Homo sapiens: one gene and its partner. The protein of the gene in region 2 purifies or fractionates together with the protein of the main gene of each other region. This does not show direct contact. Each region holds a gene or a part of one and is shown on either strand. Other genes may lie near its edges.

Region 1 (4,987 bases), on a different chromosome or scaffold from region 2:
GTCCCAGAGCAGCACCTTGGTCCTTGAGCAGATTTCCTGCTGGGCTACGAATCCTTGACCTCCCTGCCCGCTGAGTCACCACCTCAGGAAGAGGAAGTGACCTGAGTGGTGGAGAGAGCTTCTGAGGACTGAGGGGTCCTGACACCCAGGAGAAAGGGGATTTGGGACCCTGTCGTCTCGGGCGCTGTATCTCCCTGAGCCAGAGGCCAAGGATCTCGTTCGCCCTGTTGTCCCCAGCAGGGTCCTGGGCTTTCACGTCATCACAGGGGGCCCTGGCAGCTCAGGAGCATGAACCCTCCAAAACATTTCCTCACTGCCTCTTTGGGGTGGTTTTGAGCTAGGCAGTGACACTGCTGGGCCAGCTGGTGAGCCAAGCAGAGGCTCCCAACGTGGGGGCAGCTAGGAGCAGGCAGGTTGCCACTGGATGTGTGAACGCCTGCCCTACCTGTGGTAGTTGTGTGTGGAGCAGAGCCGGTGTGTCATACCTGGAGGCTCTGGGCATCTGAGCCTTCCTCAGCTCCCTCCCCCAGCTAGGATCAAGTCCACTTTAACCCTTAGCAACCCTTAGGCTGCTAGCTCCTACCCTCGCGTCACTCGGGGTGGGGGAGCGGATGGATATCTCAGGCCCTTTGTCAAGCCGCCTCTTCCGCTCCTCCGATTCATTCTCCTGGTATGCGCCTGGCCTTCCACTCAGGTGACTCGCACCTGCTCCCTGTTTGTGAGCTTGCTACCCCTCCCCACCTAACCCCCTAAGAGGGAGGCACGGTGACGTGTTCCCAGAGCCCCATCCCTTTGCTTTCTCGTACCTCAAGGGCCCCTGGCCTGGTACTAGCAAGCCCCCTTCACTGGGTGCTTTAAAATTGCATTGGGCTGGGATCAGCCCTCTTGGCTTCCCATCACCAGGCCTTCCAGGTGTCTTCGGAGACTGTGAGTGTGTGGAGGAGGAGGGGTCTTCGGGAGCTGGGGCAGACTCTTGAGGGGCAAAGGGGGGAGGTGTGAGATGGGAAAGTCCTGACTCATCCACGCTTGACTCAGCTCGCCCTGCGGCGGGGTGGGAGAGAGGGGGTGGAGTCCCGGAGGGGAGGGTGACTGGAAGAGTCTTCTGGGGAGGAGCCTAGGCCTGAACGGCCACTGGAGAGGACTGATTTTCTAATAGCCCCTTCCCAAATTCTTACAGGTTCTCAATTTTTGAGGCTGTGAACATAGGTAGTGAGTGGCCCTTGCCCTGCCCCTCCCCCCTTATGGGGGACCTGGGCACTGTGGCTGGAATGTGGGAAGCCCAACTATCTGATGCAGGCTCAGAGGAGCAGTCATGGCTGGCGTGGGGAGGTGGGGTCACTGCAGTGTCTGGAATGAGGGTCCGTCCCCACACTGCCACATACTGGATATGTGACTCAAGGTCACGCCACTTCCTTTTCCCAGACCTCAGTTTCCTCGTTGAAATGGGGTCGATCCTTTTGAGAATCAGCGAGCTGGTGAAGGGAGAGCCTGAGATGCATGCCAGCCAGGAGCCTGCTCAGAGCCCTGGTATCTCAGTGACTCCAGCCTCTGCCTCTGCTCTTCCCTGGTTGTGATGGAGAAGCTGGGGGTGGCGGGCTGCTTCCCAGGCAGGTCCTGGACTTTGGAACCTTCCCCCAGGAGCCTTCCTCCCCAGAGACACGGCTGGAGTGGCGAAGGCCAATGTGCCCTAGGGTTAAGTTGGGGTTAGACTCCCGCAGGGTGGCAGGTGGGGCCCCCTCACCCCCAGGTCCCCGCCCAGCCTCCAGCAGCCCCGCAGGGAGCATCAGGAGTGTGCACCGGTGTCTGGCCGGGCCTGTCACCGGGACGAAGCTCCTGGGCCCAAGACTCCTCCCCTTTGACCGGGATCGGCTGCTGGAGGGCTGCTGGAGGGCGGGTAGGGGAGGCGAGGGGGGAGCCAGGGCTGGGGGCGGTTGGGTGAGGCCTCTGTGTTTGTGTAAGTCTGTTGCTGTATCTATGGCCCTGTGCGTGTTTCTTTGTGACTACCAGGCTCAACTTTCTTCGGCTCTCTTGTGGCCGGCCTCAGTCTTTTCATCTGTTCAATGGGTCCGGCGCTCCCACTCAGCCCTCGGGCAGCCCCGGTGTCTGCGCGTGCCCCAGGCTGTCTCCGCGCCTCCCGCTCCGGCGGCGCTTCCCTGGCCTCGGCGCGCCTCTAGCTTCCTGGGCTCCGTGCGTGTCTTGTCTCCCTGTCCACGTGTGAGCTGTGAGTGTGTGTGAGTCAGAGTTCGGGTGTCTGTGGGTCTCTGAGCCTCTGCTGGCAGCACCCGGGGCTCGCCAAGCTCTTGCCGGCTGGCGCGCGCCCAGCCCCTGGCGGGACTTGTCCGTGTGTCTGTCCGCGCGCGGGGCCTGGAGAAGCACGCTGCAGTCCTGTCCGCCTCCCGCTCGCTGCCTCGCTGGCTGTCGCTCGCTCGCTCTGCCTCTCCGCCCGGGCTCTGCCGAAGGGGGCGGGGTGGGGGTGCAGGGCGGGGGGAGGGGAGGCTCCTGCATTCTTGCGGTCGGGGAGGAATCCGAGCCAGCGTTACTGGTCTCCAGAAGAGCCCAGCTGCAGCCCCGGGGCCCCGCCAGGCCTCTCGCTGCCCGCCCGGGCCTGCTGGGATGGGCACGGGCTAGGCCTCGAGCTGGGGACGGGGCGGGGCGTGGCCCCAACCCCGGGCCCCCTCCACGGCTGGAGCGCTCTGGGGGTGGGGCACGAGGGGTACCCCACCCTGGGTGAGGGGCGCGTCTGGGAGCAGGAATCCCTCAGGGGGCCAGGGGAGACCTCACAGCCGCCCCACACGGCACCTTTGCTACCTAGCCTTTTAGTGAATTCTGTCTCTGCCGCCCGTCGGGGCGGAGGCTTGCTGGAGACTGCAAGCCCCCTGAGGGCAAGGTGCGGGAGGGATGGGGACAGGGCTGGCCTCCAGGATCGAGACCCCATCTCGTAATCCTCTTTTTCCAGTGCCACCCCACCCTATCCAGCTCCCTAGTCCCAGGGCTGTTGGGTCCTCCCTTCTCCCCTCCCCCTCTGACACCCCCTCCCCAAGTCACGAGTTTTCTCTTTGGGGCTTGTTGCTGCAGTCCGTGCTCCAGTACCGAGTACCTGGCTGGGCCCTGGGCACGCACAGGGGCCGTAGCCCCACTGTGTGTGGGAGCCATGAGGATCCTGGCTAACAAGACAAGGTGTGTGGGTGTCGTGGCGGGTGGGATGTGTGTGTGTGGAGTGCGGGAAGGGAAGGGCCCAGTGGTGATGGGGCCCAAGCTGTGCTGGCCAGGAGAGGAGCCGCCCTGGGCACCTGGCTCCCAGGCCACCAGTGGGCTAAAGGGGGGTTAGCATGGGAAGGCCTGGCCCGAGGCAGGAGGCGCAGCCAGCCTTAGTGCCTGGGCCTGGGTGGGGGGCAGAGGGGACTGGCAGCCAGCTATGCTTGCGGCTTCTGGTCCCTTCTAGTTCTTCCCTCCTTAAAATGGTTTGAGCAGACCCCCTCCCACCCTACTGTGGGGTCCGAAGGCCGCCTCTGGCCTCAGTCTAGCTGGAGGTGGGAGCTGGAGTAGGGGGCGGTGCCTGCCTCCCTCCCCCCTCCCCGGAGAAGCCGGCAGACAGGGCCAGGCGGCAGCAGCAGGACAGCAGAGCTGAAATAAATCTGAGCTGGTGTGGAATGAGGGGGGATAAATATCCTCTCCCGTGATGTGATCTTTCCAGCGGCTATTAATAGGTCTCCGGGGAGGGGGAGGCGGCGGGGGGAGCGGGCTGGAGCTTAAAGGGCCCGCAGCCTAGGCTGCAGGAATCCTTGGCTTCAAGCTACACTCCCCATCTGCTTGACACACCGCTCCCCTCCCCCTTTCCTCCTGCTTCTGCCTGCCGGCCTGGCCTGCCAAGCCCCCCTCCTCAGGCCTTCCCCTCCAGCTGTCTGGACCAGTGGGTAGCACTCCCTGGTGTGCGTTTTCCCACTGTCCCTGGGGAATGAGACCCGGGCATGTGCAGTGACCCCAGGTCCTGTGGCCCTTCTCTGCTGGTGTTGGGACATATGGGAGTTGAGGTTTGAGACCTTGGAAGGAGTCTGAAGACAGCAGATCTTAGAAGAGAGGATGCTTAAGTCTGATACAGAGGACAGGGTTGCCACAGAAGCTTGCAGGCTGATGGGTGTTTTGGGGCTGAGGTGGGTGAATTCTGCCAACTCTAGGCCCTGGTTTCCATTCAAATTGTGGAGGCTAGGGGGTGGAGGGTTTCCCCATCTCCACTCCCCAAGGTGGATGAGGGCTTCAGCCCTTGTCTGAGGAAGCCATGGAGGGAGGTAGAGAATAGCTGGTGGTGGTCTTGAGATACCACCCCTTCCCCCCACCCTCCCCCATTGTTAGGGGAGGCAGGATGGGGTAATTAAGTTGCAGGCATGCCTAGCCCCTAGCAAGGTTAACTTTTCACATTTCTCCCACCTCCTCCCAGGTTACCCCACCCCAGGAGGAGAGAAGCTCCAGGGAGCCCGCCGCTGTCCCCCCGCGGTCATTGCCCCCCTGCCCCAGCCAAGCCAATGCACCCAGAAAATAAATTGACCAATCATGGCAAGACAGGGAATGGCGGGGCCCAATCTCAGCACCAGAATGTGAACCAAGGACCCACCTGCAACGTGGGCTCGAAGGGCGTGGGGGCGGGGAACCATGGGGCCAAGGCCAACCAGATCTCGCCTAGCAACTCAAGTCTGAAGAACCCCCAGGCAGGGGTGCCCCCTTTCAGCTCGCTCAAGGGCAAGGTGAAGAGGGACCGGAGTGTGTCTGTGGACTCTGGAGAGCAGCGAGAGGCTGGGACCCCATCCCTGGATTCAGAGGCCAAAGGTACCCCATTTCCTCATCCCTAAGACCCTAGCATCTCCCATAGTCCAAGGCTCAGATGTTCTGGGAGATCACCTCTCTGCTCCCTGCTTGTCCAGTCCTCATCCCACGTTCTTCTCCAGTATTTCTGCATGGGTACCTTTCAACACCCACCAACCAGATCATTCGG
Region 2 (5,702 bases):
TACTTTCCAGTCTTTCTCCAACTAAAGATTTTCTTCAGGCAGCAATGTTAACAGAAAATTTCCTCTCCATTCTTCCTTGTATTATTATTTTTTTAAAAAAATCTGCGTCTGTTCCCTCAATCTTTTTCAAGTTGCTGAATCATCTACCTCATTTCAATTTTCTTGAAAACCATGACCAGAATGAAAAAAATGCAAAGACCCGCTTCTAAGGTCTTTCTCACTCCTGGCCTTTCCTTACCAAGGGACAATCTTTATAGGTTCCATCTAGGCTGCACTTCCCTGGCCCCTTCTCCATCTTTCAGGAATAACAGAAGCTGGGGCATTCCTACGAACAGAAAGAATGGAAGAGAGAGGAAAAGATCCACATAACAGGAGGAGGCATCCTGCTTCTCCAAGGAGAGATGTGGAAATCTAACTGTCCAGTCTGTTCTGCTTTTACAACTACAAGATTACACACACACACACACACACACACACACACACACACAGAGTTGAGAGAGAGTGAAGAGAAGGTAAAAATGATTAGTTCCTTCTACACATGTGTGTATCCAGAATTAGGCACATGCAAGCCTGTGTGCAATTGAGCAAAATACTATTTCCATAGCAGTAAAGATACTCCTGAAGTGGGCTCTCCTTCTCTAGAATCTTGCGTTTACACACCAATCTAGTAAACAATGAAAACGCTCATTTGTCAGAGGTTAGAAGGTGGACTCAAAAGTTTTTCCTCCCTCCGCCTACTCAATGTGAGATCTTCCATTTCATAGGGTGAAGACTTGACTTTGGCGGTGACCAAACAATTTAGAAAATCCCTCCCCCTTCCTGTACCCCGACTTCCCTTACTTCCTTTCACTCCCTCTCCGAAGTATTAACCTCCCCCAACCAGGTTAATTTTATCTACCAAGATTATACTCTCTGTGTCATGATTTTTAAAAAAGAAGAAAAAAATGCTGGATACTAAGTGAGCAGGAGCAAACTGTGACTGTATATTAAATCTTAACTAAACTTTAATAAAAGTTCTCAAGCTCCAGAAACCATTTGCCTAACAAAAGCTAATTAATTACTTGTTAATAGCCACCGGACATTTAAAAAGTGATATTTTGCTATTATTTAACATAATAATGATGCTGATGTCTCTTCTGTTTGTTAATAAAATGAATACAATTTTCTTTAGAGACTACTGGCTTTCTAAGGCAGAAAACAAAGTTTCTGATACATACACACAAGTCAGAGGAAACTTGAGATTAGCAAAACGTGTTGCAGAATAAATTGGAGGAAAAAAAAAACAAAAACTCTCCAAAACAACAAAACCAAACTCAGAAAGTTCCTATGTTGTTTCAGTCTTGTCAATTTGGACAATTCGCTCATTTTATCAGTTACCAGATTTTAATGTGAGAAAGGAAGCTGTTCAATTATCTAAATATACCAATTGTTCGTAGACAGATGATGGGCAATTTGATCTGCTCTAATTCATCAGCTCAGATAAGATAAGAAAGAAGAGACAGTTAGATGTCACCAAAGGGTTAATATTTAAAAAGATTAAGTTTCCGGTGTTTTTTCCAAGGAATATTTAGGTTGGTTTTAAATTTTTCTCAGAAGGAGGTCTTACCCCAAAAATAAAAGGAGCAATACCTGTACTCGCTCTTTCAAAGTACATCTCTAAACATGCTTCGGTCAAACTTTTATTTCACCTATTGCATTGATGCCACCAAAGAATTTGTAAGCTACTAATTTTAAAAAGGACTAAAACAAACAGAACACTGCACTATACAACAAAAATCAACCCTATTTTAAAGCTAAAAATCCAAACTTCTCCATCTTTTTAAAATTTTGTTTTGTAAGGGGGAGGGTGAAAGAGGAAAATAATTTGTGCATCATAAACTCCAAGAGTAATTAAACAAGCCTCAATACCCCGGAATTATGAATACCACTGTTAAGGGTTTTTGTTTTTCTCAACTAAAGAATGAAATGAACAGCATAGCTTGATTTTTTTAACACATGTACAGGGTAACTTTGGCTTGTATGACTACACTGAGGCAAACTTCACAAAAAGACAAAGCCACACCAAATAATACATAAAGAGTGGGGAGATTCAGGGAAATCCCACAAAATTAAGAAAGAAGTGTAAATGCCATACCTGATATAATCTCTTTTACAGTAGGTTTTCCCATCCCTAACAAAGCATGTACAGCTCTCGTCCAAATACTGATTACACTCCGCACATTTCAAACATGCCGCATGCCATTCCAAATCCGGAGAAACCCTCAGAATATACTGATCGTGAATCTGATTGCCGCAACCAACACATAGGGAAATCAGACGTTTTTCTGAAATGAAAATAAATACATGATTGACTAACCGTTTACTTCCTACAGAGATAAACACACTTTTAGTGTCGTTCTCTTATAGGGCGTACTCTGGGAGGTTTTTTTCTTTCTTTCTTTCTTTCTTTTTTTTTTTTTTTAGAGCATTGCACTTTGGGATGGTAATTGAAATGTGCCATCAAAACCTTGACTCATTTTTAAAAGGAGGTGGAATATATGTAAAATGCAGATTGGAATAGTCTACATTTGTACGCCTAGCACGCAATCAAACCCGCTCATTTTGTATTTCTCCCCCCCCCCTTCCTCTTTGCTATAATCATTGGGAAAGATTATGGATAAGTCAAGTCAAAGAAAAGGTTTTGACTAGAAGCGTTAAGTGAACGCAGGGATGTCTATATTTTCCGTGAAGCGCGCTCTTAAATAGCACACAGGACTGGATATTGTTAGCAAGAGCAGGCATAAATACAGTTGTCACTCGTTCTCTTTTGCAAGTCTAATGCTAATTCACATCTCTGGGCATTGACTGTGCAGGCAGACCTTTGCAACATAATAACCTTCTCGGAGAGCTCAGGATTCCCCAGGAGGAAATCACCGCTTAGCACCAGAAAGCTAGAGCTTTGGAGGGCACACAGGCGAATTCACACACAAGGTACAATCAGTTTCCCGAAGATAAGAACCGACAGTAAGCATGCAGGCGTGGCGGCAACAAGAAAAAGCCACCTTTTCTCTTTCTCCAGGCAATGACTCCAACTCCAAAGAGCCCTTGGCACCTCAGCCTGTGCCTGAGAGAGAACCCCGCACAAGAACAGCACACCGAGCCCCACAAGGTAAAATAGCCTCTTACTTTTTGGTGGATCTCCCATGTCTCCCATATCTGTAAGAGGGAGTAATGTCCACAGTGAAATGGTGGTTGTACAGTTGGTGAACAGCCCACAGAGAGGATGCTGGAGCTGTGGCTAAGTGGGAAATATTGGCCCCTGGGGTTGCCAATGCTGAAAGAGCCGCTGCTCGGCTGCGCCGCGCCCTCGCGGATCTAGGAGTCCAATTTAAGCCGGCGGAGTTGGCGGAGCGGAGGCGCTGCGGCGGCGGCAGACTCGGCGCGGCTCGGGCACCTCTCTTCCTTATCTCTTACTCAAACTTCTCTGCTCCAACTCAGCTCCATCGCCATTGGTCTGACGCAGCGCGCGGGGACGTCAGGCGAGCGCCGCGCCCATTGGCTGCAGGGCGCGCGGCGCAGCTGTTCTGATTATCATATTTCAGCCTCGCCGCCGCTGAGCGCCACTGACCGCTCGGCGAGCCAGCGGGAGAGGATTAGGGCTCCCGAGGCAACTTGCTCGGGGCTCAGGCCGTTCTCCCCCGAAGCTCGGGCTGCCGGGCTGTTCTGGCTCTGGCCTCCCTCTCCTCCTCTTCCTCTTCCTTCTGTCCCCTCCCGCGTTCCTTCCCGGCCGCGCCGCCTGCGCCCTCGCCTCCTGTGGCGCTGCTCCTCCGCCCTGCGCTCCTGGGGTCCCCGCAGTCCGGCTGGCCGCGTTGCGCGCGGGGCTCACTTTCTGCCGCCGGTGGCGAGTGGCTGGTGGGTAGGTCTACCTGTTGACGAGGTCCCTCCCGGGCTCTAGGAAAAGGGGGGAACTTGGAGCAGGCCGTTCAGCTTGGTTTGGTCCCCACGCCGTGGTGCACATCCCCGGGGCCTGGCCTGCCTTGGCTGCTCCGGAGGGCTAGTTCCTCCAGAACTGGCTGCGCTCGGCGCGCTAGGGGAAGAAGAATCGGGAATGGGATGATTAAACCCAGAGGAACTGTTTCCTGACTGCTACACCATTACTCCGTCTCCCCCAACCTCAGATATCTAAAAACGTTGGGTGGGAGGAAAGGGGCGCTTCTTGCTGTTGGGACAATCAGGTTGGAACGCACCGGTAAACCGAAGTTGACTCCGCGGACTGACTTTTTGTCTTTCAGACCCGCGAGGTCTGCTTCTCAGTTTAACTCTAGAATTGAAGCTCACTAACCCGAAGCCAAAGAGCGAAATGATCTTTCAGTAGTCTAAAGTTTGTAAGATTTTTATATACTGTTCAATTCTTCTCACTGCTGGTCTCCTGCCCTTTGTTTTTAAGCAAACTTGTGCAACTAGCTGTGGTATTTTGGTAATTATAAGGACAAGTCTCCATGACTTTGTGGAGATTTTTTAAAAATGCATTAGTCTAAGGGCGCGAGTAGGGAGGGATTTATTACAGAACAGTGAAAGACCTATTTCACGTCCCCAGGCGTTAATATATAATTTTCTCTCGAGAAACTACTTGGAGAGAGAAGACTGTTAGGTGCAACTCGCCGGTAACCTTCTTCAATCATTCTTACATGTTCCCATCATCTGTTACGGTCTCCCAAAGACAGTCACAGGAAGGCCACGAAGAACCCCCGCGCTTCCCCCAAAGCTTCTAAAAAGCCATTTCTTATCTAATGGGGCTGCCAGTTTTATCTAAAAAGTCCTACAGACACAAACCATAGAAGGCTTAATTTCGGTGTCTTGTTGCTGTGAGAAGACCCGGTGTGTTAGGAAACTCCTTTCTTTATATCTTTCGCAAAATCTAACCCTTGATAAGAGCTGTAAATCCTGGCCGGCCGCATTGGCTGGGCTTGAACGGGTAATGCCTCTCCAAAGCGGAAAGGGAATCAAAGATGCGTAAGTTTCCTCCTGACCTAGCTGAGGCTTTCTTCCCCAGGAACTAGTTTTGATTTGTTTTTTCTCAAGGAGGATTTCAAATTGGATCTGTCTTCCCTTCCATTTTTATTATAAGTTGTTTTAGAGCGCGTGTATGAAAGCGAAAGTTGGATAGACCTAGGTTGATAAGTTTACCAGTTGTGTGGTGTGTGTTTTTTTTTTTTTTTTTTTTTGGTCTGTTTCTAGTCTCTGGTATTAGATGTATGGAGCCTTTTGTCAGGCTGCTTTTGCAAAGCTGATGCTGTTAATCTCAATACGAAGCAAATCTTCCTAGTATTTGTGTGTGTTTCCCATAGAGATAAACATGTTGACCCTAGTAAAAAAAAAAAAAAAAAAAGATACCACCACAATGCCAGAAAATAGAGTTTTACCTAGTCATATTCCATCATGCCACTTTTATAAGATGGAATTAAACACCAGAAGCCACCAGAAGCCTGATGACTTACATTTGAGATCCACAAAGCACCCTCACTATCCATCCTCCTTCAAACCAGCCCCCACCTCCCACCCACAGTGTGGTATTTTAACTCCCTAAACCAATAAGCTATTACAAAGAATTATTGCAGATGATAGCACTTCCAAGTAGAAAAGCTTGCATGCGGCTTGGGGGAAACCTTTAGTAATAGACAATTTCACCTTAATGGTGAAGACAACATTTTCCTCTTTTCATT

Evidence for each region.
Region 1: the proteins of ISL1 (region 2) and BCL9L purify together in Homo sapiens (affinity purification with mass spectrometry, with the first as the bait; one large-scale study listed by BioGRID). This does not show direct contact.

What each region holds. Positions count from the first base shown.
Region 1 is NC_000011.10:118,908,104-118,913,090, reverse strand, and holds part of BCL9L (B-cell CLL/lymphoma 9-like protein), read left to right. Parts: intron 1-2,303; exon of another isoform or gene 2,304-2,383; intron 2,384-2,548; exon of another isoform or gene 2,549-3,075; coding exon of another isoform or gene 3,076-3,151; coding exon 3,152-3,177; intron 3,178-3,201; exon of another isoform or gene 3,202-4,080; coding exon of another isoform or gene 4,081-4,151; intron 4,152-4,435; coding exon 4,436-4,821; intron 4,822-4,987. UniProt on the Homo sapiens protein: Transcriptional regulator that acts as an activator. Promotes beta-catenin transcriptional activity. Plays a role in tumorigenesis. Enhances the neoplastic transforming activity of CTNNB1.
Region 2 is NC_000005.10:51,381,163-51,386,864, reverse strand, and holds the start of ISL1 (insulin gene enhancer protein ISL-1), read right to left. Parts: upstream 3,418-5,702; 5' UTR 3,194-3,417; coding exon 3,166-3,193; intron 2,325-3,165; coding exon 2,135-2,324; intron 677-2,134; exon of another isoform or gene 265-676; coding exon of another isoform or gene 239-264; intron 1-238. UniProt on the Homo sapiens protein: DNA-binding transcriptional activator. Recognizes and binds to the consensus octamer binding site 5'-ATAATTAA-3' in promoter of target genes. Plays a fundamental role in the gene regulatory network essential for retinal ganglion cell (RGC) differentiation.